Homo sapiens: one gene and its partners. The protein of the gene in region 4 interacts with the protein of the main gene of each other region in a pairwise test. Each region holds a gene or a part of one and is shown on either strand. Other genes may lie near its edges. The genes, in order: ZDHHC22, C2CD2L, TMEM50B and TMEM88.

Region 1 (7,026 bases), on a different chromosome or scaffold from region 4:
TTCCTCTGCCTGGTCCCCAGTTCTGCTTACATGTCACCCAAGGACTCTGCTCTCCAGAGGTCTCACCAACCAATTGCAGTAATATTGAACTTGTTGCCAGCCCAGCCCAGCAGGAGGCTAAGCTCTGTCCTCCTGCCTATTATGTTTGACCTCACCAGCCTGTTCTCCAGCCTGCTGATGGCTCAGAGCAGAGGGAACGTGGGTGGGAGAGGCAGGTTTTTTGTTTTTTTTTTTTAAGACAGAGTCTCACTCCATCACACAGGCTGAAGCGCAGTGGTGAAAGCAATCTCTGCTTACTGTAACCTCTACCTCCCAGGTTCAAGTGATTCTCTTGCCTCAACCTCCCGAGTAGCTGGGATTACAGGTGCGTGCCACCACGCCACACTAATTTTTGTATTTTTAGTAGAGATGGTGTTTTACTGTGTTGGCCAGGCGGGCCTTGAACTCTTGACCTAAAGTGATCCGCCCACCTTGGCCTCCCAAAGTGCTGGGATTTACAGATGTGAGCCACTGCGCCTGGCTGAGGACTGCACTTTAACTAGTATGCACCAAGGACCACTACCTGATACCTGGCCCTAGAAGGACTCAGCTCCTGGTGGCAGTTCTTACCACTTTATTTGGCCTTGAGACTGGCTCCTACTGCGTTTCCTTCCACTTCCTCCCTACCCTGGCCTTTGACTCTGAATGGCTTAGCTTCCACAATCAGTAGTGTCTACGTGCTTGAGTGTGCATGTATAGCATTGCTATCTCCATTTCTCAGATGATGAAACCGAGACTCAGACGGGACTAAGTGGCTTGCCCAGTGTCTTCCTGCTACTGAGTGGCAGTCTCTGGTCTGCCTCTCAGGTCCTTAATCCACAGCTCTTCTGCAGTGGCTCAGGGAATAGAACATGCTTCCTCACCTGTTGGCCTTCTAGGAGCAAAGAAAGGCAGAGGGCAGCTACTTCCTCTGAAAGCCCAAGATTGTTTTGAGGTGCCTGGGCTGAACATTCATAAAAATTCTGCTCTACTCTGGGGGAAGCCATCATTTCAGTCTTTGTGGTGGCTACAGCCCAGTTCTTCCCAGGCATAGAACTATCATGCCATTTGGCAGTGGGAACACAGAGATACAGGGGGGACCCAGCTACGGGGGCTGCCTTCAGGGCTGGTGGCTGAGCTGGGTCCAGAACTCACAGCTTTCAGGCCTTCTGGATCCCAGCACTGGCACAGGAGGCTGCCGGGACCAAAATAACCAGGACGGGGGAGGGTGGGTGGGTGGGCTAGTGGGTGGAGTGTGAGCACAGGCAGGTGGAGGGATGAAGAGAGCCAACAAGCCTGCTTATACTTTCTTTTCCAAGTAGTTTCGCCAACCGTAAAAATGGATGGTTCCAGAAGGAAGACCTTGAAATGGTTTGATTTGAGATAAATCTGGGCTTGAGGCCTGTCCATATGTGCTAGGTTTGATCTGATGGGAGAACAGAGCCAGTGAGTGCCCACCTTGGGGCCCAGACTCCTGTGCCAGCATGAGTTCCAGTGTCTTTCACTTCCTCACCATATCCACTGGAAACAGGCGAGCAAGACTTCTTACCTCCAACTCTCCTATCTCATCTTTTGTGACCTTTCATCTTTCCTCTTGAGGACCTTCCTTTCTTTCCCTCCCATGACATACACCCCACCTGTTTGGCTTTCCCTTTCCCATTCCTCTTGTTCCCCAACCCTCAATCCGAACAGTTGGTAGCACCCTCTCTCATCTGCACAGGAGGACAGGTGGACAGAAAAGAGTAAGAAGCATGGGTTGTTTAATAGAAATTGAGTTCAAGATCAGCCTGGGCAAGATGGTGAGACTCCGTTGCTACAAAAATAAAAAATAAATAAATACACTAGCCAGGCATAGTGGCATGTGCCTGTTTTCCCAGCTACTCAGGAGGCTGAGGTGAGAGAATTGCTTGAGCCCAAGAGTTTGAGGCTGCAGTGAGCTATGATCATGCCACTGCACTCTATCCAGCCTGGGCTACAGAGCAAGACCCTGTCTCAAGAAAAAAAGAAAGAAAGAAATTGAGCTGTCCCCAACTGTGGTACAGATCTGAGTCAGATCTGTCACCAGAGCATGGATGGCTGTGAGTTTGGGCCTTGAGAGCTAAAAGTGGGAGGGGTCTTCTAGTGTGAAGGTGGCGGCCAACCACAGGCCCTCAGCTGATCCAGAGAGGGAGGCGGCTAGCTAGTTAGGTTTCAGAAGTTACCCTTTCTTTTGGCTTTGTGGGACCAGTACAGGTTGCTGTGTCACCTCTCTGAACCTTATTCTTATCTGGGAAATGGAGATGCCACCATCTGACCTGTATCTTGGCATTTGGGTAAGTACACCAGCATGATGGGTGCTACCAGAAAGTCCAGTAAGAGGGAAAGGGGACTAATGTTCATTGAGCACCTATTATGTACCACCCACTATGCATGTCACATTTCACCCATTCCTCTTGACAAGTCCATATTATCATGTCCATTTTTAAGGCTCAGAAACCAAAGACTCAGCAAGGTTAAGTTGCACCAACACCACACAGCTGGTACGATTCCAAACCAAGATTTGGAGTTGGGGCTTCTAGCCTCCAAAGCTCATACTCTTTCCACCCACCATACTGCCTCTTGGGGGCTGCCTCTCTGAAGCTGCTTCTCGAATGAGCCACTTTGGAAGGGAGGCAGCTACTTGTCCTTGGATGTATTAAAAAGTATGCTGGGTGATTATTTGTCAAAGGTGTTATAGATGCCTGTTGGGAGGAAGGGGCAGGGGAGATTGACTGATGTGTCCTTTTAGGCTCATTAGGAAAATTCTGTGATTTTTAAAAAGAGGCAGAACTATTATTAAATAGTTAAGAGGAGCTGAAGCAGCCAGGCTAGGTAACTTCAAACACTTTTAGAGAAAGCAGGTCCCCAGAATAGCCTTTTGTAGCTGCTGCATGGGGCCAAGAAAAGGCCGCAAGTTCTTTTTCTCATGCCTTGATTTAGTGCCAGGAAAAAACCCTGTGGGAAATGGCTTCCATCCACCCAGGCTTGTTCCTGGGGCAGTGTTGCAAGGCAGGCCCAAGCTTGACAGCTCTGATGTTCTCACATCCCAGCTTGAGGGCCACCTTTGCCTGTCAGCATTCCTCACGCCAAAGAGCACCATGGACCTGGGATCCTCCATCCCCCACATGGCTGCCCAAGCTAATCTGTGCCGACATGGAAGAAGTGGGTCAGGGGATGGCACAGCCCAATGTGAGCCCTGTCCCACTGCTGCCCCTGTGCCAGTGGAGGGGCTGCTGTAAATGGCAGCTGGGCCTATCTGTCCCCAGCTTTGTAAAAAAAAAAAAAAATAATACAGCTATCCAAGCTCCTAGGGATGAGGACAAGAGGAGGCTGCTAATGAGAGAATCTAAATCAGATCCACATCCTCCATGGCTGCTGAGTCCACCACTGCTCATACTGGACAAGTGTTGAAAGCCCAGTTGACAGGGCTTTGGAAATTGGAGGTTGGAGAGACTTGGGAAGAGGTGGGCTGGGGCAAGAGAAGGCTAGGGAAAGGGCAAAATATGGTTGAGATTTTCAAGGGCAGAATAGGTTGTAAGGTGGAGTCCTTAGAGGAGGTGCCCCCCCCCCACCAGAGGAGGTGATAGGGTTGCCCTACAGGGAACCAAAGGCTAAGGAATACTTTCGAATTAACTCCAGGGTCCAGTGCCCTGGCTGCTGGGTAGGTCAAGGTAAGTGTCTTTGCCACAGCTGCCAAAGTTGCAGCCCAGCCAGGACTCTAAGCCCTGAAAAGGAGAAGGAAAAAGCTTGATAGTTTCAGGAGTTGAACTCATTTTGGATGTAGTCTCCTGCTCTGTAAAATGACCCTCTGCTGGGAGCACCGCTCTGAGTGTGAACCGGAATGCTGACCACTCTGTACATCATTTTCTTGAAACATGCAGCTGTATGAAATCGTTAGTGTTATTATACCCATTGTACAGATGAACGAGCTGCAACTGAGAGGTTGGGACACTTGTGCCAGTCCACACAGCTGGGAGATTCAAACCTAGCATGGACCAGCCACCCAAACTCTGAGGAAGAGTGTGGGAGCTCTTACTCAGTGGTTATTTCAAACCAGTAATAGGAAGTGCTTGGTTTAGAGGGATTCTGGGGAGATCCTGCCCCACGACACAGGGCTGATGACCTTGGGGGCCTCTTCTAGCAAGCTTTGATTGACAGAACCAGCTCTGGTGGAATGCGGTGGTGGCCACACTGTCCTCTTGTTAACATTAATGACTGAATTATTCTCTACGTTGGTGTTCTGGGCTGCTCTTCAGACTAAGCTCGTGACTTATTCTTCCCAGATCTCCATCATGCTGTCATTTTCCTGAGTCCTCTCAACCAGCGTTCCCAGAACAGTAGGGAGAAGGTGCTGTGGACTAGACAGCTGCCCAGGCACCTGCTCCCTCTTTAGGGTCCCCAGCTCACCCCTCTCTCCTCCTGAGCAAAACCCCTTCACCCTGCTTCTAGCCCAAAAGGAGAAAGCAGAGAGAGACAGGCATCTCCTACTCTACAGAAATGTTATCAGCGGCCAGGTGCTGCCCCAGGAGCTGAGGGCTGTCCTTGCTAAGCTCATCAAACTTAGCTCTCTTCTCTGCCATGTCTCCAGTCTTCCCCTCTTGCCTCAGGTGCCATCCGCGCCAAGAAAAAGTTAGGGCAGCTGGTTCTTCCTTCCTCTCCCTCACTGCAGCTGCAGCGCTGAGGTTGCTACAAAATGTAGCGTCAATCTCATTAATCTCCCTCCCTCCCGGTGGAAAGCCTGCCTAGATCGCAGTTATGCCGGTGGCCTGGGTGTAAAGCGGCTCTGGTGTTTCCCCTCCCCGTGCCCTGCAGGAGCTGTCCTGGGTTCTGAAATGTTCGTCATCCTCATGCTCTACCTCTGGTTCGCCATCGGCCTGGCCTGCGCCGGCTTCTGCTGCCACCAGCTGCTGTTGATCCTCCGCGGGCAGACCCGCCACCAGGTGCGGAAGGGGGTGGCAGTGAGGGCCCGGCCCTGGCGCAAGAACTTACAAGAGGTCTTCGGAAAGAGGTGGCTGCTGGGCCTGCTGGTCCCCATGTTCAATGTCGGAAGTGAGAGCTCCAAGCAGCAGGATAAGTAGTAGACACTCCCGTCATTTATCTCTCTGTCTCTGTCTTGACTCCTCCTGAGCATAAAACCATGGCAGCCTTGTCTCCACCCATGACTCACTACAACCTTGTGCTGGTAAGGTCCTAGCATCTTCCCCTCACCTTCCACCCATGAGAACAGCGTGAGCTGGTGGATCATGACAAGGAGGAAAAATGTCCCCCCAGGCATTTCTAGGCTCCTCACGAGCCAGCCAGGTGGCTGCTAGCTGTTAGGCTGCCTCTGCTTTCTTTCCGTCCCCTTGGGATCCCTGCTTTCCCCCTCTTCCTGGCTCATCCATTCTCCACCGTGTCTCATTCATCACTGCTGTCTGCTAGAGCCCTTCCTCTCAGCCCCCATGTTGGGAGAGGGGAGTGGATTCTTGCTGCTGGTATGAGACTCCCTGGGACCTAGAGGCTGGCAAATGTTTAAAATCACCACGTGTAAGAGGCAGCCAAGTCAGCTCTGCCAACTGCTAGGGGAGTTGGGAAAGAGTGGGTGTGTGTCCGCATCCCCTCTGTAGGAAAAAGAACTTAGTAGCTTGCTGCTCCCTCACCACCCCCCACCAGGTTCAAGACCCTTTTTCTGGGAGACAGCAATCAATGGCCTGCTTTTTCCAAATGTTATTCCCTGTCCACCCTGCCCCATCTGGCCGGCCCAGCCCAGTCCAGGACCTGGCTGGATGCTTCCTGTCCCTGGAACTCTTCCAGCCTTTCTACTTGATCTCCAGCCCCCAGGTCTTTGCCAGATGATGGGAAGGCAAGGAAGAAGGGACAGGGAAAGATAATTACTGATAAATGAAGGGGATATTCGACTGTATAACCATATGGAAGTGTGTGTGTGTGTGTGTGTGTGTGTGTGAGAGAGAGAGAGAGAGAGATGGGTGGTGGTGAGAAGTGTTGTTAGAAACATATAGGAATAATGCCTAGGGGAAAGGGAGAAGTGAGAGGGACAATTGGGTTCATTTATGCCCTATACAAAGGGCATTCCAGCAGCTGAAACTCTTCAATGTTTGAATGGCTGCCTGTGAAGGTAGTGAGTGCCCCATCACTGGAGGTATTCCAGCAGAGTCTAGGCAGTCGTCTGCCAGGCATGCTGTGGAAGGGATTTCTGTACAGGGTCATTCTAGGTGAGCTTACACATTCCTTCCAACCCCAAGGTTCTGATGTCCTGGTTGTGATTGCTGGACCCAGAGGCAAGATCTGCAGAGATGCCTGTGAGATATTTGCTTTCCTAGAGGGGAGTGTGGGCATGGGAGGGGTCTGAAAATCAGGACCCAACCCAGCCACTGAAGAGAGAGTCTCTGCAGAGACAGGGCTACCTGGGTGGTTGAGGGGACTGACATTTGAGGACAGGGAGATGGAGCAGTGTCATTGTCAGTGGCAGGGCATGGGGGGCAGTGGTGAGCTAAGGCTGAGGAGTGGAGATGACCAGAATATAAGGGTGCAATTCCCAGACCATCCCTGCGCATCTGACTGACTCCGGTGGAGGCACTGCTGTGTGTTTTCTGAAACCTAGAGGACCAGACCTCTGGGGCATATAAGGGAGTAGGGACAACACAAGTGCCCCCTCCTGACTGGGTCCCAAAGCCAATATGACATCCATGCAGGCAGCAGTGCTGAATCCATGCCCTGCAATGTCCAACCGCCAACTGCAGTGACCCGCTGATAGCTGCGCAACAGCCTGGGTTCTTGAGCAGAGATTGGGAGGACTTTACTGTGGTTCTGCCTTCACACCCCCTAGAGAGCTAATGTAGTATTGGCTCCACCTGCTCACATTTCTCCCTCCCATACTCATTCCTTCACTCATCCATCCTACGTATATTTATTGAGTGCCAACTACGTTCCCAGCCTCTTCCAGGCACTGGCAATGCAGTGATGAACAGGATGACAAGATTCATGCCATCA
Region 2 (7,537 bases), on a different chromosome or scaffold from region 4:
CTGTTCCCCTGCAAACAACAATTCACCAGCTTTTTTTTTTTTTTTTTTTTTTTTTTTTTGAGACAGAGTTTCGCTCTTGTTGCCCAGGCTGGAGTGCAATGGCGCGATCTCGGCTCACCGAAACCTCCACCTCCCAGGTTCAAGAGATTCTCCTGCCTCAGCCTCCCGAGTAGCTGGGATTACAGGCAGTAGCTGGAATTACAGGCATGCGCCACCACGCCCGGCTAATTTTGTATTTTTAGTAGAGACGGGATTTCCCTATGTTGGTCAGGCTGGTTTGGGACTCCCGACCTCAGGTGATCTGCCCGCCTTGGCCTCCCAAAATGCTGGGAGTACAGGCGTGAGCCACCACGCCCAGCCAGTTCACCAGCATCTTTATTACCTTTCATTCCCCGACAGGCTCTTAGGCGGCAAATGATTTCCATTTGTCAGAGAGGAAGTCACCACCAGTGAGTTAGGGAAAGGACTCCAATAGCCTAGCGCTTTGTCCACTCTTCCCTCTATGGCATGTTCCAGGAGTCAGGGTCATGTTGACCGTTTTTAAGCCGAAGATAGTTTCTTCTTTCCCTCAAAATCAGATGTGAGGCCGGGCGCAGTGGCTAACGTCTGTAATCCCAGCACTTTGGTAGGCGAAGGTGGGTGGCTCACTTGAGGTCAGGAGTTCGAGACCAGCCTGGCCAACACGGTGAAACCCCGTCTCTACTGAAAATACAAAAATTAGCCGGGTGTGGTGGCACATGCCTGTAATCTCAGCTACTCAGGAGGCTGAGGCAGGAGGATCGCTTGAACCTGGGATGAGGAGGTTGCAGTGAGCCGCGATCATGCCACTGCATCCCAGCCTGGGCAACAGAGGGGAAACTGTCTCAAAACAAACAAACAAACAAACTAAATCAGATGTGAAATGGCTTTTCTACTTGAAAATGGCTCTAATTAACAACAACAAAAACCCAGATATGTATAAAATACATAAATTTTCGTAATTTACTTGCTAGTATTCCACCAGATTTTCAGTACTTATCCCACTGCTATTATTTTTCTGTGTGTGTTGTGTGTATGCACGTGTGCCCCTTTTAAACTAGAAACTCCCGGGAGGCAAGTGTTTTCTCTTCCACAGGGTGTCCCCATGGGGCTAGGAACACAGACATCTGTGTACAAGGAAGGCATCATCACACATAATGAGGCTGAGGCTGAAAGGAGGACTGAGGGCAATAGGTGCATATGGAGGGAGCAATTAGTTGTGACCAGAGTAAGTGGTCTTGAGGAAGAGAAGTATCATTTCAGTAGATTATAAGAGTAGAAGGACCTTTCACAGGCAGCGACAGTGAGACACCAGAAGCTGGTGGAAAGGAGGAGCTTGTGGGATCCCAGAGGAGGCAGCATTCAGTTATCTTGTTGATGACGAGTATACTGAGACTCCCTGGAGGTCTGAGAGCCAGTCTGTATCTATTTCCTTTTTTATTAGGAGGCCAATCCTAATAAATCTTCCTTCCCAGCCTGGTATTGGGAAGCTTTATCTCTTTCTTCTCCAGAGATCATTAGCCCTCCCTACCACCACCCTCCTGGGGAGGGTGGAAGGATGTAATCAAAGACAAGAGAGACTAAGGATTCATCATCCACATATACATGTTACTATCAGAAAATGGTTACTAAGATACTTGTCAGATAATCTGAGTATTTTTGTTCCCATGATGATAAAGTCCCAGTTGATGATCAGACTAATCAGAAGGAGAAACAAACACATGACTTTTGGCTTCACTTGAAATTGTGTGCCTTCCCTGGTAAAAGTTCAAAGCGTTTTCCTGAATGCTGAAGCCGGCCCTAGGATTCACAGACCAGTTGACTTGTCAGTGGCCCTGGACTGAGCAGACAGTGTTTGAGATGCACACCTCTTCTAAGTAGCCTTGAGTGGCTCCCAATGAGCAAGGCCAATCCACTGAATGTGATTGCTAGACAAAGCCTGTCCCAAAAATGTTTCATAGTGCCACAAAGACAATGAGACCCCTCTGGATAGTCTGGGGCTGTGATACTTGCAGGACTCTATCTGTGGCTCTGTCCAGTCAGCTGAATCACTCTTTTTCCTTTTCCTCCCACCTCTCCCCTCTTAGTCTAGAAAAAAGTTGTTAATTAAAAGCAAGCCCCAGGATTTCCCATTCCACTGGTATGGCATGAATGATATTTCAAAAGACAGAAATGGCATAGAAATTCTCAAAGCATACTTGAGTATTTTCTGTTAGACTTCTTAAAATTACAAAGTTTGTTAATCCCTACTATGTGCATAGGAAGCTCTTCAGTACTGTGGAGGATACAAACTAATATAATTGCAGTTGCTTGCCCCCAGGGAGTCTACTTCAGCATATTTGGAGCATCTTGGTTGAATTTGAGGGAAAAGAGATGACTAAGACATGGTTCCCACCCCTAGGCAGCTTCCTGATGCATGGAAAAAGCAGACATATAAACAATCAGCTAGACTCTAAGGCAGAATGTAAGTGCTAGAGGTCTAAGTAATGGAAGAAAGAAGGAGGACTAGGCTGGGCACAGTGGCTCTCACCTGTAATCCCAGCACTTTGGGAGGCCGAGGCGGGAGGATCACCTGAGGTCAGGAGTTCGAGATCAGCCTGGCCAACATGGTGAAACCCTGTCTCTACTAAAAATAACAAAAATTAGCCAGGCATGATGGCGCATGCCTATAGTCCCAACTACTTGGTAGGCTGAGGCAGGAGAATCACTCAAACCTGGGAGGTGGAGGTTGCAGTGAGCCAAGATCTCGCTACTGCACCCCAGCCTGGGCAACAGTGACTTTCTGTCTCAAGAAAAGAGAAAAAAAAAAAAAAAAAGAGGGAGGACTAACTAGGGAGACTCATGTAACTAGGTAGACTCACAGTTCAGATACTGAATTGTGAAGCAGTATCTGGCAGCATAGGACCAAGCACTCAGTGGAGAAGTTGAGGGAATAAATCAAAGAAGTCAGAGAATGGAGATCACTAGGGGGTCTGAGGGTTCCTGAAGGATTCTTGGGGGAAGAGGGTCTTCATAGGGAAAGCTTCTACCTGGACAACTTCCTGCATAACCTGCTCCCCTAAACCCTAGCTGCTCTTCCCACTGACAGCTTCCTCCTGCATCCCTGGTTCTGGCCCTGAGTTCTCTCCTCCCTTGATTTCATGTCTTCTCCTCCCTTTGAGATTAGAAACCCAGACTCTAGGAATCTCCACTGATTTGGCAGTCCAGTGACAATGCATGGGCAGGGCCACAGGAGGTTACCTCATTCACCCCCACCTCTCCCCATCATTCCTTACAGGGAAATCTAGGGAGGCCCAGGCTACCCCACCACCTCCTCTGGCTCAGACAAACCTGTTGCTGACCTGTCAGTTTCTGTCTAGCCCTGCCATCCCACACTTCAGAAGGCATTGTTTATTCTCTTATTCTCATGTGCTCATTCCTCAGACAACTACTTGGGTTTGGGAGAAAGATACTTAACACCTTTCCATCCTACCTCTTTAAGAAAGGGACTGTGTGCCAAAGACCTTCCCACATGTATGAAGAAGGGGCTCTTGGGAGAATGTGAATTCCCCCAGGATTCCTTTGAATCCTTTTGCAGGTATTTCCTTCCCCTGTCCTCAGCAAGCATTGATGAGCCCCAGTCCTGTAGAGGTTGAATCAACTCCTTGAGTCTAGGAAAAGATGGCTTCTGAGGCCAGAGGTTGGGCAGTGTACCTACAGCACCATTTCTTGGGAGCTTGTTGGGATATCACATACTTAGAGTGGCAAGGTCTTGTGGCTGAATCTATTGATAGTCCAGTGCTACATTGCCAGCTCCCTTGTCATTACCACCCCCTCTACACGTGCTCCATAGGCAGGAGCTGTTACTATGGAAATACATTATTTTTAAAAACAGACACACAGCCTGGGCTTGGGAATCTCCAGAACAAACCTACACGAGCAAGGAGGTTAATGGGGCTGTTTCTGGGTCCAAGCTCCAAGAGGAAGGAGGGTGATGATGGTGGGGGGAATTCAAATTCGGTGTTCTACTCTCAACCTCTCCCAGCTTCAGGTTCTGCTTTCTCTCTGTTGACATCAGCTGGACCTCTGCCAGACACTTCTATCTGGGAGGGACGCTCTGCGTCTCCTTACCCTGGGCCTAGCTTCCCCCAGGAAATGGGAAGCTAGAAGTCGCTGAGTCTGGGGGTGTTGGGAGAAGGGGGCGGTGATTTCCACAGGGGTCACCTCCTTCTTAACCTCACAGGCGTCCGACCTGTGGAAATCTAACAAGCATAGGGGAAAGCAAAGGCAGCATCTTAGGTAAGTGAAGTTACTCTTGCCTTGAGCTGAGTGTGGGAGCACCGCGATTGCAAGATGGGGCGAGGTGATCAAAGATCCCGCCTATTTTCAACCCCGGAACCTCCTCCGCTCGCTGCTAGCCCTCCCGCCCTCCTCCAGCGAGGGAGCGCCAGGCTGTCCTGGCCCCGCCCGGCGCGGGTGCGGCTCCTTTAAGGGCGGGTGGGGGCGGGGCGCCGGCGGTGTTGTCAGTGTCAGCTCTGCGCACGCAGCCCTCCCGGAGCCGGTGCCGGCCCGCGAGCCCCAGCGTCTCTGCAGACCAGTCCCCTCCAGGGTCCGGCGGGGCCCGCGCGGTGGGAGGAGTCGGGCACTGGCCGGCGACTAACGGGTCCGACTGCTGACCAAGCTAGGAGAGACCCGGACCACGGAGACAGAGACCCCGGCATCGCGACCCCCGAGGACCTCCTCTCCTCGCCCTGTGGCACCCACTAGTCCTGGGCACTCAGCCGCGGAGAGCCCCCGACCCCGCGCGCCCAGCCCCGGGGGAGCCCACCTCCTCCCCGCGGCCCGCCCGGGCCATGCTCCCCCGGGGCAGCGGGTGAGCCCCAGCCGGGACCGGGATCGGAGCCCGCGCGGAGCATGGATCCGGGCTGGGGGCAGCGGGACGTGGGCTGGGCGGCCTTGCTGATCCTCTTCGCCGCCTCGCTGCTCACGGTGTTCGCCTGGCTGCTGCAATATGCCCGGGGCTTGTGGCTGGCGCGGGCCCGCGGGGACCGGGGCCCGGGACCCGCCTTAGCCGGGGAACCCGCGGGTTCCCTGCGGGAGCTGGGCGTGTGGCGCTCGCTGCTGCGGCTGCGGGCGACTCGGGCTGGCGCCGCCGAGGAGCCAGGAGTCCGGGGCCTCCTGGCGTCACTCTTCGCCTTCAAGTCTTTCCGGGAGAACTGGCAGCGGGCTTGGGTGCGAGCGCTGAACGAGCAGGCCTGCAGAAACGGGGTGAGTTGGACCAAGCGCTTGGGTGGTCCCTTCAGCCTTTCCTTCCAGGGGAGGGACTGACTGCTCGTGCTAGGAGGCCAGACGAGGGTGGGCATAAACTGGGGAACCCTATGGCTTCTCTTCCCCTCCCGGATCAGAGAAAAGGGTGCCGCTAAGGCTGGAGGTTGTAGAAATCCAACTGGGTCCCCAGACTTCCATTTCTGTGGGCAAGGTACTCTGGTTCCAAACCCATGCACAAGTTGCTGTTCTCATAGCAACGCTAATCCCTGTGCCTGAGGGCACTTCCGCCTTGCCTGGGTGCTGGTTGTGTTGGGGCATGGGAGACAGGTGCACCTGCAGAAGGAATTTGCCTGCTTCTCATGCCACCACACCCATTTAACATTTCATGCCCCAAATCCCTGGTGTGGTCAGGCAGATCCCCAAGGAGCCTGAATCACCCCCCTACCCGACAGTAATTTCACTGCTACAGTCAAACACATCCTTCTCCTCCATGCTGGCCTGTGGTTCACTGGGGGTTGGGGAGTGTTCAGGTGGAGAGCAGATTGACAGTGCCCCTACCAGTAGATGAGCTTGGAACTGCCCCTTGAGGGTCAGTCACAAACCAGTCCAGCCTACTTCCTCCCATTGCACCATGGGCATCTGGCCTCCCAGGAAGTGGGGCAGGAAGCGTGGTCATGAGATGGAGATAAGGTGGGAGGTAGAAGTCTCTCTTTTCTGGAGCTCCCTCCCATCCTGACCCAGCAATCTCTCCTTGCTCTCACAGTCCATCAGCTCCTTGCTCAGAGGGTTCTCTATTTCCAGCCACTATGAGTTTGGAGGCTTTACCTTACTAGTTCCCCAGATGCCGGAAACAGAAATGTCCACAAGAAATTGCTCTATTTACTCTGTCCAGCTGGCTGGCTAAAAGCCAGATGGCATCTGTCAGTTTACACCTTGAACCCACCTCTTCATCCAACTCTCCCTGTACCTTGTCCCTCGGTCAGAAGCAACTCCCCAGGATAGCTGACTCAACTGGACATTGGCCTCCCTTGCAGAGGGTGGGGAGATTGAGGTTTCAAGCATCCATCTCCCCATCTTCCTTGGCCTAGCCTTTGAATGAGACAGCTACCAGAGCAAAGGAGTTGGCTTCCCCTGGTTTGCCAAGCAAATGAACCCTATGGATTTGTTTCCTCCATCTCAAGACCCAAGGAAGAGTTGCCAGCCAATTCTGTGCCCCTTCCTCAATTCTGTGTCCGCACTGCTCTCCAGGTGGGGCTGCGGTAGGTTGCTTCCATTACTGTGGACGAATTAGGGAGCAGCTCTTTTGAGATCTAAGCAGCTTTCTGCTCTCTAATACCGTCCTGCTATCTGCCTTGAGGAATTAGCCAGGCCCCTGGACTCTTGGGTCCTCTGAGCTTGTATCTCTTCCCAGTCCCCCTGGTACGGATCCCCAAGGCCATGCTCATCTTCATCTCCAAGAATATGAAGCATCATACTCTTGAAGCCTCCACATCTTATTTATTTGGAAGAAGGCTTAGCTTCATTTCTGCAGCTCTTATCTTGAACAAGGTGGCTCTACCACCTTTACCGGGGCTTAGCCCTTTCCCTCTGCCCAGCTATTATATATAGGTGGCAACCAGCACCTTAACTTTTTTCTATGTAGGATTTTTTGTTTGTTTGTTATTTGTTTTTTTAGGGGGTAGGGTAGGGGATGAAAGGGATTGCAGGGAGAAGAAGAAGGAAGCTCTTGGTATTCCAGGAGGAAGCCAGGGTCTTCAGCTTAAGGTGATCTAGTCTCTGAGGTGGACTACCTCCCCATTGCTCAGTGGCTCCTAGCAGCTACAGGCCCCTGGAGAGGCAGGCCTTGAGGGGACTACCTCCTGTCTTAAAGCCCTGAGCCAAGGAGGGGCCAGAAGCCAGCCTGCAGCTGAGGCCTCCGCAGTGGCAGAGTCCAGCCAGCAACTGAGCAGGCCAACCCTGTGGGGGGCAGCTCCAGAGACCTGATCCAATGCCCACATTACTCCCTCAGAGCTCCATCCAAATCGCCTTTGAGGAGGTGCCCCAACTCCCACCCAGAGCCAGCATCAGTCATGTGACCTGCGTAGACCAATCTGAGCATACCATGGTAAGGGTCTGATGGGCACTGCCCTCTTTGGGGTCCAAGAAGGACTGACCCCAAGGGCTCCCTTTAGTCCAGAGGTTCTTAACCTGGAGTCTGTGAATGCCTTATGGATCTAAGGATTGGTTTCAGGAAGTCTGAGAATCCCATTGAAGTTATGTGCAAAATGTTGGA
Region 3 (7,026 bases), on a different chromosome or scaffold from region 4:
AGTAGAAGTGAGGTTACAAAATCTACATCAGCATTTAAAGCATCAGGTAGAAGGCTGGGCATGGTGGTTCATGCCTGTAATCCCAGCACTTTGGGAGGCCAAGGCGGGTGCATCACCTGAGGTCAGGAGTTTGAGAACAGCCTGGCCAACATGGTGAAACCCAGTTTCTACCAAAAATACAAAAACTAGCCAGGCGTGGTGGCAGGCACCTGTAATCCCAGCTACTCAGGAGGCTGAGGCAGAAGAATTGCTTGAGCCTGGGAGGCGGAGGATGCAATGAGCTGAGATCGCACCACTGTACTCCAGTCTGGGTGACAGAGCGAGACTCCGTCTCAAACAAAATAAATACAAAATTTAAAAAATAAAACATCAAGTAGAAAAGAAAGCTAAGCTCTTCAAAGCTGCTTTATTTGGTTTAAAAGGCTATGATACTTACTATATGATCCCATTTATATGAAATCATAGAAAAGGCAAAGCAACCATCATAGAAAGTAGATCAGTAGTGGCCACGAGGTGAGGGGAAGAGTATTAACTATAAAAAGGGGTATGAGGGAACTTTTTGGGGCAATGGAAATGTTCTGTATCATGATTGTAGTGGTAGTTACACAACTGTAACTGTACACATTTGATCAAGCTCATCAAATTGTACACTTTAAATTGGTGGATTCTGGCCAGGCGTGGTGGCTCATGCCTGCAATCCCAGCACTTTGGGAGGCTGATAGCTTGAGGCCAGGTGGATAGCTTGAGGCCAGGAGATCAAGACCAGCCTGAACAACGTGGTAAAACCCTGTCTCTACAAAAAATAAATAAATTAGCTGGGCACAGCAGCATGTGCCTATAATCACAGCTACTTGAGAAACTGAGGCAGGAGGATCACTCGAGCCCAGGCTGTTGAGGCTGCAGTGAGCCAAGATCATGCCACTGCACTCCAGCCTGGGTGGCAGAGTGAGACTCCGTCTCAAAAAAAATTAATAAAATAATAAATACATTAGTGAATTTTATTATACTTAAATTATATTCAATTAAGCTGACAAAAAGAAAAAATATACACGTGATACCAAACCAGACAAAGTGACCAAATGGTTCTAGATGGGAAACAAGCACAGCATAGTGGCTAAAAGCATGGGCTCTGGAGCCAGACTGTCCATGTTCAATCCTGGCTCCACCACTTACTTGCTCTGTGACTTTGGACACATTATGTAAGCCCACTGTACCTTAATTTCTTCATATTATAATGTAAATTTTTTTTTTTTTTTTGAGACGGAGTTTCACTCTTGTTGCCCAGGCTGGAGTCCAATGAGGTGATCTCGGCTCACCGCAACCTCTGCCTCCCGGGTTCAAGCGATTCTCTTGCCTCAGCCTCCCAAGTAGCTGGGACTACAGAAGTGTGTCACCACGCCTGGCTAATTTTGTATATTTTTTAGTAGAGACGGGGTTTCTCCATGTTGGCAGGGCTGGTCTCGAACTCCTGACCTTAGGTGTTCCACCCGTCTCAGCCTCCCAAAGTGCTGGGATTACAGGCGTGAGCCACTGCGCCCGGCCGTAAATGTTTAAAAAACACAATTGGGCCGGGCTCGGTGGCTCACTCCTGTAATCCCAGCACTTTGGGAGGCCAAGGTGGGTGGATCACCTGAGGTCGGGAGTTCGAGACCAGCGTGATCAACATGGAGAAACCCCATCTCTACTAAAACTTCAAAATTAGCCAAGCATGGTGGCGCATGCCTGAAATCCCAGCTCTCGGGAGGGTGAGGCAGGAGAATTGCTTGAACCCAGGGGGTGGAGGTTGTGGTGAGCCAAAAACCCACCACTGCACTCCAGCCTGGGAAAGAAGAGCTAAACTCCGTCTCAAAAAAAAAAAAAAAAAAAACAAAAATTGGATAACAATTCAAATGAATTCAAACTATAAAAACTAATTTATGTGTAGACAAATAGCATCTTTCTACTGAACAATTTTGTTGCAGTCTGTAGGTGGCTACTCAGGTGATCAGAAGTGAATGTAAAGACACTGTAGTCCTAGGTTTGATCCCCTAATGTGTTCATTACTTTCCTGTTAATAATCATAGTCAGCCATCTTGTAAGTAACATTATTGGTCAACAATTGGGATAATAATAAATCCATCATTAGCACTGGAGTCCAAGATCCATTTGAATAGCAACATTTTTTATCTATATCATGGGCAGTGTAACATGACAAAAACAGTAACTTCTAGCAATAACTTACTTTCTTAAGGATTTGAATAACACTAAAACTTTGTTTTAAAGCAAATAAAAAATATTCTATATAATCATTACCAGTCTTGAATAAAGACTCACAAGAGAGGCTTTTTTTCTGGTGACAAATTTCTGTTTTGTCAACACCCATTAACAGCTCAAAGTATCTTTACCTGTTCTTCCTAAACAGCCGCTTTCATAGCTATCACCTCTCACCTGAGCATTGGATACAGCATTTATCCTAGAACGGCACAAAATCATCAAATGAATTTCAGTATTCGCTGTTAAAATACTCAAATATTTATATAACACTTAGACGGAAAACAGATTATTTCATAACTAAAATCAGTATCTGAATAATTTAACATATTTTTAACCTAATAAAAATGCTAGTTGATAGAAATGTTACATTAGTCTTATTTTCATAAAGTACACCCAGAAAACACATTTATTTTAAGAGATTTCTATCACTTCTCTCCAGAGATTATACAAGAGGGACCAGTTTTCTGGATTCTTTGTCTATTTCACATTTATACATGAATGACTCAGTGCTATCCCACTTCAAGGTTCTCATTATTATCAAGAGTTAAACAGTTTCTCTTTGTGTTAAAAGTCAAGTGATTTTCTATGATCCATTTCTTAAGCTCAGAGAAAATGTAGCTTATGTATAATATGCCCACTTTATTCAGCTTCCCCTTCCATTTTTGTTAGAGCAAGGTACATTAATTAGTAACAGGAATTTCCTTTTTTTAGAAGCCACAATGGATATAAGTAGTTCCATTTTCCAAAATATAACCTTTTTAAAACTCCTGGCCAGGTGCAGTGGCTCACACCTGTAATCCCAGCACTTTGAGAGTCCACAGCAGGCAAATCACGAGGTCAGGAGTTCAAGACCAGCCTGGCAAACATGGTGGAACCCCGTCTCTACTAAAAATACAAAAAATTAGCTGGGCGTAGTGGCAGGCACCTGTAATCCCAGCTACTTGGGAGGCTGAGGCAAGGGAATCACTTGAACCCGGGAGGCAGAGGTTGCAGTGAGCCAAGATCACACCAGTGTGGTCCAGCCCAAACAACAGAGTAAGACTCTGTCTCAAAAACAAAAAAACCTCCTGATGGTATAAGGAAATGATGTAATCTTAATGTTTAATATTTTTTAATTGTTAAAAGACATCCATAAAAAGCTTCCAAGCTTTTTTATGAAATGAGGTAACATAAACTTAAAAATAATTTAATAAAAACAAAAGCCACAAACAAATCTCTTTTGAGGCCAATCTTGCCTTTTCCTCAAACACTGGCAAACACAGTCAAGTAGCACATTAAAAAAAATAAAAATAATACTGCAAGGTAAAAGTTGAGTGTACTACAACACCTACGGGTGATTTACTACTAAAAAAATGCAGAAACGTAACATGTTTCATGAAATCTCAGAGCCATCAGTTTTAAGATACACCATTAATTTTTAATACTGACAAGAAATAAAAATGTTATCAATTATAATTCTAAGATACCACTGACTGTAAGATGCATCCTGATATTCAGAGGTATTAAAATGCGAAAAAGTAGATCTTGCAACTGACAAAATATGTAACTGACCAGATTTAAAAATATGAGGAAAAAAAAAAATCACAAGATAATTGTTATAGGTGCTAAAAAGATATATGACCAAATCCAACACTCATTCTTGGTTAAAAAAAATCGTAATAAAATGGGAATTATGTATGTATCATGTTAAAAAATAGTCTATCAAATAAATTAAAAAGTTATTCAAGAAAGCACTGCACATTAACAGGAAAGTATTTTTAGAAAAATCACCTTGAATAGAGAATTATCTTCATACTTACATGAAGAAAGCCAATGTGGAAAATACACCACATGTGTGAAAGGCATGGTTCAACTGTTCTGGCTTAGGATACACCACAGCTGCATCAATCATTATCCACCAGCCTGTAAAAAACTTAAAACACAGCCCAAGTCACTGAAACATTAAAACTCTTGCTAGCACAATACCTGCTTTTTAACATTCCTTTTGTCCTACAGATCATATAAATGGGCTGGGTACAGAGGCTCACGCCTGTAATCCCAGCACTTTGGGAGGCCAAGGCAGGTGGATTACTTGAGGTCAGGAGTTCAAGCCTGGTCATCATGGTAAAACCTCATCTCTTCTAAAAATACAAGGCCGGGCGCAGTGCTGACATCTGTAATCCCAGCACTTTGGGAGGCCAACACGCGCAAATCACCTGAGGTCAGGAGTTTGAGACCAGTCTGGTCAACATGGTGAAACCTCGTTTCTACTAAAAGTACAAAAATTAGCTGGGCATGGTGGCAGGCACCTGTAATCCCAGCTACTTGGGAGGCTGAAGCAGGAGAATCGCTTAAACCCAGGAGGTGGAGGCTGCAATGAGCTGAGATCACGCCACTGCACTCCAGCCTGGACGAAAGAACGAGACTCTGTCTCAAAAACATTCAAATATAAATACAAAAATTAGCTGGGCATGGTGGCATGTGCCTCTAATCCTAGCTACTTGGGAGGCTGAGGCACAAGAATTGCTTGAACCTGGGAAGTCAGAGGCGGAGACTGCAGTGAGCAGACTGCTTCACAATTATCGTTAGTTCTTGCTCTGCTTCATTTCATTTTGTTTTTCTATTGGACTTTAGGTGTAGAACTGTACATTGAAAGAGATGAATTTTTAAAATGTAAACAGATAAAGAAATTTGCTTCCAAAAAATGCTGTGGGAGCCAGGAATGGTAGTATGAACCTGTAGTCCCAGCTACCTGGGAGACTGAGGCAGGAAGATTGCTTGAGACCATGAATTTGAAGCTGTAGTATACTACGACCACATCTGTAAATAGCAACTGTACTCTAGTAGCTGTACAACATAGCAAGACCTCGTCTCTTTAAAAAAAAAAAAAAAAGTGCGGACAGAGAGTGGTTGATGGAATTATAAACCAAGATAGGTCCTGATTTTGGGGTGTTTTTTTTTTAAGCTGGATGATAGACACATGGGATAAAGGAGGTGATGGAATCTTTATACCATTCTCTCTGCTTTTGTTTTATGCCTGTCATTTTCAATTAAAGTTAAAAAATGATGGAAAGAAAATTAAACAATAGTTTCCTTCACAAATCTCTTCCTCTGATGCTCCCCTGATGTTGCAGCTGGGGAAACAGAGATGGTATTTCTTCCCTAGAGCCGCTGCAGGGCTTCAGTTCCAATGGAGCCTAAGGTTGTTACTATTATCTGCAGAGTACTGTCACTGTTGTCTGACCTTCAATAAGTCACAACAATAATTTTGGGTTACATCAAATTCTGAGCCTTTAAGGATCTTAAAGTACTTACATATATGTTGTATCAGTAAGTTAAAAATGCTATTGCCTATAATAATTATATTATCACTGGAACTGAAGAAAAGATATTAAGTACACATTTACAAAGTCAAAATGAATCCAGGGCCTACCATATTCTGCTTGGCAATAGTATCTAGAACTCTGATAATCATCTATACAAAACAGCAGTGAAATAAATAGTTCTGGAAAGCCATTCTCAGTTCAAAGGAACCGGCATTAATTTCCAGGGCAAAAGGTAAGGGATACATGTCACCAACCAGTCTTTCTCACTTACCAATATACCTGCGACAACAGATGCCACAGCATTTCTTCTCTCACTCCAGTCAATACATTCACATTCTGGCCAACGAAAATTATCTAGGAAGCCTGCCATTTTTACTTCTTAAGCATAAATTTTTCATTAAATGCTGTATCCTACAAACAGAAAGACAAAAACTAATCAACCTAAGAAAATGTTTTCTAAAAGTAAAATACCTTACTCCTTTCTTAAAGCTTTACACACAACTTTACTTTAGGTCCTATTCTACTATAGTTAAGAAAAATTCAATACTTCAACAAGTACCTAATTGAGATGTATATAGGACTACGCTAGGACCCAAGGGGGAGCTTGCTATTTGATAAATGAGCACTATGGTTTTAAACCATGTCTAGGAGCTAGGTGCCGAGGTGGTTCACGCCTGTAATTCCAGCACTTTGGGAGGCCAAAGTGGGCAGATCACTTGAGGCCAGGAGTTCGAGACCAGCCTGGCCAATATTATGAAACCTTGTCTCTACTAAAAATACAAAAAATTAACTGGGCGTGGTGGCACATGCCTGTAATCACAGCTACTCGGGAGGCTGAGGAACAAGAATTGCTTGAACCTGGAAGGCAGAGATTGCAGTGCAAGATTATGCCACTGCACTCCAGCCTGGGCAACAGAGCAAGACTCTGTCCAAAAATAAATAAATAAATGAAATAAATTAAACATATCTAAAATATTTGACACTTCTTCCATTGAGAGGTAGATTTATGTCCTACCTTTGAATTTGGGTCAACAATAAAGACTAGTAGACCAGTAGAGTAGAGGAAGTGATGCTATGTAACTTCTCCATGCCACTTCCAAGATCAGGTCACAGAAGGCAATGGAGCATCTGCCTGGTTCTCTGGAACACTAATGCTTGGGCTACCATGCTGTAAGGAGACCATTTATAGGTGTTCTGACCCACAGTTACAGTTGAGGTCCCAGCTAACAGCTAGTATTAACTGCCAGACATGAGTAAAGACACTTTTAGGTAACTGCTATCCAGCTATAGCACCATCCCAAAAGTTTGAGCCTTCCCAGGTAAGGCACCAGATATATGGAGCAGAGATACATCATCCTGGCTATGCCCCTTCCAAATTCCTGACCCATAAAATCTAATAAACATAATAAAATGACTGTTTTAAGCCACAGGGTTTTGGCATTAATCTGTAACGCAGTAAGACATAACT
Region 4 (6,094 bases):
TCTGAAGTCGGGAGCACCCTCAACCCTCCTCTCCCAACCAAGATGTCCAGGGGTGCCAAAGGTTCTCTCAAGTTCAGGGGTAGAGATGGGGGGCAGGGCTGAATGACGGACCAACAGGCCCCAGGGTGGGCCCCTGCATCTTCCCTCCCACGGCTGCTGCTCCAGAATTGTGGCGGGAGGGGGTGTCATCCTGCTCCGGAAGGCCCATTGTTTCCCACCCCGGCCTGGCAACACCGAGTTCCTCTAAGCTGGGGTCAGAGAACGGGCTCAGGTCCCCAAGGGGAGCAGCGGCAGGCGGCCGAGGCTGGGCCCCTCCACTCTATTGAGGGGGAGGTGCCTGGGGTCAGGAACAGATCTCTGAGGTCTGGCCAGGAAGAACGGACAAAAGCGATAAGGCCAGGGGGCTCAAGGATGCTCCTCTCTGCTCATTTGTAGCCCTGGCACATGTTTCCTGTTCCTCGGCACAGGGCAGGGGTGATAGTACTTGTGCCACGCCTCTGTTCGCAGAGCGCGTTCAGTTCGTTAAATCTTTATTGATGCGTGGACACTCCTTCCCCTCCAGCCCCGCCCCCCAGCCCCAGAAATACTAGAGAAGCTGCACCATAAAACGAGGGCACGAGATTGTTGTCCCATTCACGACGGAGCTGAGGGGGAGGTGTGCAGGTTCCAGCCTAGATGTTCAGGATTGAGATGTGGGTCGTGAAAGGAAAGTGGGTTTTCCGGGATGTGGGGGCTTTTCTCAGCACTGGGTCCACTGACGCTGCTGCTCCCAAGGGGATGCTAGGACTCCGCTCAGGCAGGGGTGGGGGCAGGGCAGGTCGGAAGATGCCGGGCTTCAAGTCCTTGGGCCGAATAAGAGGGAGGGCAGCCGTCAGGGTTGTTCTTGACTCGAGGGTCATTAGACCCAGACCTTTCCTGATGTGGGAACGGCCTGGGACCCTGGTGAGGCCCGGATTTGCCGCGGCTGCGGGGCGCGCCGACGCCGATAAAGGGCTCGGCTGTAGGGCACGAGGCAATCGGCTAGGCGGAGGCGCAGGCAGAGGCGGCGGTAGCTGGCCAGAGCAAGCACGAGCAGCGGCACGAGGAGCAGGAATCCGGTGACCAGTAGGGCCGTGAAACCGGGGTCCCGCAGGTGCGCGGTGCAAGGGGGTGCCTGGGAGCGCAGGAACTGTGGGAGAAGAGGCGTCAGGCCCAAGCCGACCAGGCGATACTGTGCACGGGGTGGAAACAGCCCAGGCGGGTTGAAGTTGTGGCCCATAGACCCCACCGCCAGCATCACCACACACCAACACTCACACTCACACGCACACCCCGGGGCGCACGCTCACCTGAGAGTGGCAGAGGAAGCCGAAGCCCAGCATGGTGACAGCGGGTAGCAAGATGGTCCCTAGCACCAGCACCAGCAGGAGAAGATTGAAGGCAGCCACCAGCAGATTCTGGGCTGTTACAAGAACAGCGCAGGCCCAACAGTCCAGGGGGTCCCGGGGCTCTGGGCCGTCACCAGGAACCGCTCGCTGTGCCCCGGGGACATCCGCCATGGCCCGCCTGGATCCCGCCCGCCTGGGCCGCTGCCCTTATAGCCCTCTTTCCTGCCCCTCCCCCGGCCCAGCCTCTCCCCACCCCCCTTATCCTGGAATGCGGCTCTAGGATTAGGCACCCCCCATCCCGAGGAGCGGACCAGAGCCCTGGACATTCCACAGGCGCCTCCGGGGAGGGGCTCACCCTCGCCAGGGTCTGCGCAGTCCTCCCCATCAATCACGGTCTTGCAGCCCTCCCGGTACTCAACCTGCTACCACCAGCCGTTAGCGAAACAGGATTTTTTTTCTCCGTTTATTTTTAATATTAATATTCTCACACAAAAATCACCGAAAATAGGGGTAGGGTTGGGAAGACCCCTCTGCCCCTGGGGCAGAGAGACAGTGCAGTGCGAGGGTGCGGGACTGTAAACCCCCCACCCCTCCGCAGCCCCAGCGTGGAGAAAAAACAACCAACAAAACGAAAATAAAGCCCCAGAGAAACTCACCCCGGGGTGTCCCTGCCCCAGTGAGGCCCTGGCCCTGGGTTGTTTCACACTTAAAAAGAAAAGGGGGTGGGGGTGAAGGTCTGTGTTTTTTAAAGTTGGCCGGGGCTGGGAAGGACGGGGTTCCTTTTCCTCATAGTTCTTTCTTTAAAACCTTTAATTTTTTTATTTTATTTATTTTTTTTACAAAATACCATTTCAGTTCCCACTTCTTCCCCTACAGTACAGGAGTTGCTCACCCTCAGGTGGGGCTGGGGTCGGGTCGGGAGTGGGGGGACTGGTCCGAGAAAGTGCAGGACGTAGGGGAGGGGAGCGGGTTTGAGCACCATGAGAACCCGGCTGGAGCCGCGGGCGGACGGGTGGAGACGGTCGGGCCGGGCCCGGACACACACTGGGGCGCGGGGAGAGCCCGGCGACGGGCGGTCCCTGGAGGGGCGGGCAGGATGGCTTGGGGGTGTGGGAGGTCGGGTTTTCCCAAAAATGAATAAATAGAGGTGAGTGGGACTGTTATAAATTAAAAACAAAAAAACAAGAAAAGAACAAAAAATACAAATCATAACCAAGTGAATAAAGAGACATGTACAGGGGTCACAGCTAGCATTGGAAGTAAAAAAGGAGGTTCCGGGGGAGGGGTAAAGCCCATAGAAAGAATCTCATTAAAAACCTCGGCTGCCGTAACGTCTATGTACATACACGAGCCGCGTGCATCTGCGCCGGGCGGGCGGGCGGCTGGCAGGGTGAGGGAACCCGTATGTGACCCCCGCCGCCGCCGGAGCCTGGTCCTTGTGTCTGTTGCTAAAAAGGCCAAAGTCGGTGAGGGGAGGCGCTGGTGGGCGAGGGGCTGCCAGCCCCCTCCCCCGTCTCCCATTTTTTTTCCTTTTTTCCTCATATTTGCTAAAAAAAAAAAAAAAGTTTTTCTTAATAAATTAAGTGAGGGGAGCTGCCAATGGGGTGGAAGGGCTGGGCCCGACCCCCTTCTCGGCCACAGGCGGGACCTAGGTCCAGCCCAGGCATGTGCTGGTGGCCCCGCGGCGCCTTGCGCGGGCAGGCAGGCGGGCGGGGCGTCCGGCCTCATCGCGACGTGCTGGCTGGGGCCTGGGGGGAGAAAGCCGGCGGGGGCTCAGGGAAAGGCGCGGCCGGGCTCCCGAAGCCCGTCCCTGCAGCCTGCCCCAGTGCCCTCCTCCGCTGCCCGCGCGCCCGCCGGGCCCTCACCAGCGTGAAGGCGTCGTAGGCCTGAGCCAGCTCCTCAGTGCGGTACTGCTCCAGCACCACCACGCCCTGCAGGCCTGCGCTGCGGCGCCGGGCACAGCCCTCGCAGTGTACCAGGTACGTGTTGCGGCTGCCATTCTCACTTGTCACGAACAGGATGTTAAACACCTCCACCTGGGGCAGGGAGGACAGTGCAGTCAGGGGGAGGGAGGGCCACTGTGGACACTCAGGGAGAGCAGCAGAGCCGGCCCACTCACATCGCACTCGTTGCAGTAGTAGGCTGGCTCGTCCTTGACACGGCCCTGGTAAGCGATTTTCTTCCCTGCCCGCACCAGGCTCTCGCGTTGCACCTGGCAGTGCTTCATGGACTGCAGCAGGCAGAACCTGGGGAGCAGTGGGGTTGTGTTGAGACCACCGGCAAGGAGGAGGCCTGAGGCAGGGCTGGAGCAAGGGCAGAGGGGTGGGCAGCCCCAGGGCCCTCCCCTAGGGGCCTCCCCGCTTCATGTCTAGGTCACATCCTCTGTCCTGGGCATCTGTTATAGGCGAAGTTTCCTGTGGCTTTTGTCTATTTGGACCACTAGAAAAGGTCATGACAGCAAGGACCTAGTTAGCCTCCCCAACACAGTAACACTCGGGGCACAGGCAGACAAGGATGGAGAGAGGTAAAAATGGGGTGGAGTCAGACAGGAAGAACAAGAAAAGGGACCAGTCAGTGGAGGTGGGCTCCCACCCAAATAGGGTCCTCACTTGATCATCTTGAACAAGTCGGGGTCGCTGATTTTGACCGTGCGAGCCACGTTCCATGACACGTGAATCATGGGCACGATGGATTTGACGTTCTTCACCTCATTCCACTCGTATCGTTCCAGGGCCAGCTGGTACTGATAGGCTGCGGGCCAAAGGCGATCACAACAGGACTCTCAAACAGCCCCCAGACACCTAGGCCCAAGCCCCTTCCCTCACTGCTGGCGGCTCTCCAAGCCCCAGCCTCCCAGGCCCTTGCCGCTGAGGCGCCACACCACGCCAACACCTGCCCCACCCTCTCACCGGTGAGGGGCCCCACGTTCCAGGCAATGTTGTTGCACCAGCCGGTGGCCTGCACCCAGTGCACAGTCCCCGCATTAATCCACACGAGGTCTCCGGGTCGCTGCACGAAGCGGTACACAGGAATATTGGATGCATAGAGATCATCCAGGATTGGCCACCAGGAACCCGTCAAGTAGTCCACGCCGTGCCTGCGGGGTGGCCACAGGTCAGGTGGGAACTGGGGACCGAGGGCGGGGACGCGGCAGTCTGACTTGCGCAGGACGGCACGCACCGATCACAGAAAGCGCTGATGGTCTCCCAGTAGTGCTCGTGCACCGCGAACCACTCGCAGTCGCCTGGGCCAATGTTGATGTTGACGGAGCAGAAGTTGTTATTCTCCTGGTGGCCTGCAGGGGTCGACAGAGAACGGCATGGCTGGCCAGGTCGGAACTGCGATCCCCGATAGCCCCGCCCTCTGCCCTCATTGGCTGACGGCTGAGCGCCGCCGCCAGCCCCTCCTCTCGCGCTTCCAGCATCAGCGCGCACAGGCGTGGAGCGCACCTGGCGTTCGGCTGCCGGGCACCTTCATGTACAGCTGCACCGTGTTCATGCCCAGGATGGTGTGGCCCACGTGGCTCAGCATGTTGCCCGTGGATGTTACCCGCATGAAGGCGGGCAGCTTCAGCAGCTCCTGCAGCTGGGGCTTCCACCTGCGGTGCGGAAGTGCGACGAGAGGCTACACCCCGCCCCCGCCACGAGGTCCTAGCAGCACTCCTGCCCCAACTTCCCTGGCCTCAGCCCCACTGACCGCTTAGCATCAGACAAGTCGATGTTGGTGCCAAACTTGATGATGTGATGGTTCTTCGGGTCTGGTGCGCTGCTGCTGGGGCGAAGAGCACAGGTTGGTGGAGAGCAGAGGGAGGGGAAGGAAGCAGGAACAGAAGGGGCACACCTGCACAGTACCTAGGAGGGGTTCCAGTGGTGCTGTCTGGCTCCTCTGACTCCTCATCCTCACTCTCCTTCTCCTCCTGTTCAGCCAGAGGGTAGGCAGGCCTGGGTCAGAGACCTTTCGAGAGCCCTCCCACCGCAGCCCCGTCCCAGGACCTGCCTCTGGCCACGTTCTCATCTCACCTGCAGAGACTCCTGGAAGGATGAGGCCTGGTACTGTGCGTACTTGGCAATGGTGGTGTGGGAACGGGAGCTCTCACAAGGCCAGATCTGCCGAGTGCCTGTCAGATCCCAGTTCTCATCTGAGGGCTGCTGCACCTGGGTGCGAACTTCCACGGTGTGTTCGCCACTCGCTTCCACCAGGGTCTTGGTGGAGAAGAGGCCCAAGTCTGGAAGGGAGGGCCGAGCAGGGTGTCGGGGCAGAGGCAGAGGATAGGGACCGAGGACCCAATCGACCCTTTCCCTTCCTACTCCTCTGGCTCTGACAGGGTGGTCATAGGTTTAGCAGAGCTCAGCCCAGAAGAAATAGGCAGGAGCCCTAGCCCCACAGGAAGCTGGGAGTGCTGGCCTCTATCTGCATCCTCACCAGCCCTCTTTCTCCTGCAGCTGCTCAAGGACTCAGCCCCTAGACCAGTGTTCCCAGATGTGTGCGTGGCCATGTGCACCGCACCTGACAGACACATAGTAGGTGCTCAATGAATGGCAGCTTCTTTTTTCCCCATTTGGAGTCTAGTCAAAACAGCAGCTTCTTTGAGTTACCATTGGATCCAATTAAAGATTAAAGATTCAGTCAAGTGAAAGCCTGAAATGTGCTTCAAATAACTCAGTGTGGGGAAGGGAGAACATACAGGTATAAAGGAGACAAGATTGACCTTTGTATTTCTATACAGC

The links.
Region 1: the proteins of TMEM88 (region 4) and ZDHHC22 interact in binary tests that used the Homo sapiens proteins (3 or more experiments, as listed by UniProt).
Region 2: the proteins of TMEM88 (region 4) and C2CD2L interact in binary tests that used the Homo sapiens proteins (3 or more experiments, as listed by UniProt).
Region 3: the proteins of TMEM88 (region 4) and TMEM50B interact in binary tests that used the Homo sapiens proteins (3 or more experiments, as listed by UniProt).

Annotation. Positions count from the first base shown.
Region 1 is NC_000014.9:77,131,771-77,138,796, reverse strand, and holds part of ZDHHC22 (palmitoyltransferase ZDHHC22), read left to right. Parts: intron 1-4,848; coding exon 4,849-5,114; 3' UTR 5,115-7,026. UniProt on the Homo sapiens protein: Palmitoyltransferase that could catalyze the addition of palmitate onto various protein substrates and be involved in a variety of cellular processes. Catalyzes the palmitoylation of KCNMA1, regulating localization of KCNMA1 to the plasma membrane.
Region 2 is NC_000011.10:119,102,831-119,110,367, forward strand, and holds the start of C2CD2L (phospholipid transfer protein C2CD2L), read left to right. Parts: upstream 1-4,513; 5' UTR 4,514-4,911; coding exon 4,912-5,265; intron 5,266-5,282; exon of another isoform or gene 5,283-6,524; intron 6,525-7,273; coding exon 7,274-7,369; intron 7,370-7,537.
Region 3 is NC_000021.9:33,462,958-33,469,983, forward strand, and holds part of TMEM50B (transmembrane protein 50B), read right to left. Parts: intron 5,970-7,026; 5' UTR 5,929-5,969; coding exon 5,830-5,928; intron 4,166-5,829; coding exon 4,053-4,165; intron 2,453-4,052; coding exon 2,385-2,452; intron 1-2,384.
Region 4 is NC_000017.11:7,850,519-7,856,612, reverse strand, and holds TMEM88 (transmembrane protein 88), read right to left. Parts: upstream 1,548-6,094; 5' UTR 1,539-1,547; coding exon 1,329-1,538; intron 1,211-1,328; coding exon of another isoform or gene 1,169-1,210; coding exon 899-1,168; 3' UTR 843-898; coding exon of another isoform or gene 672-842; 3' UTR 514-671; downstream 1-513. Other genes in the region: KDM6B (lysine-specific demethylase 6B), read right to left, coding at 3,092-3,403, 3,487-3,613, 3,977-4,118, 4,277-4,464, 4,548-4,662, 4,817-4,965, 5,064-5,135, 5,219-5,283 and 1 more. UniProt on the Homo sapiens protein: Inhibits the Wnt/beta-catenin signaling pathway. Crucial for heart development and acts downstream of GATA factors in the pre-cardiac mesoderm to specify lineage commitment of cardiomyocyte development.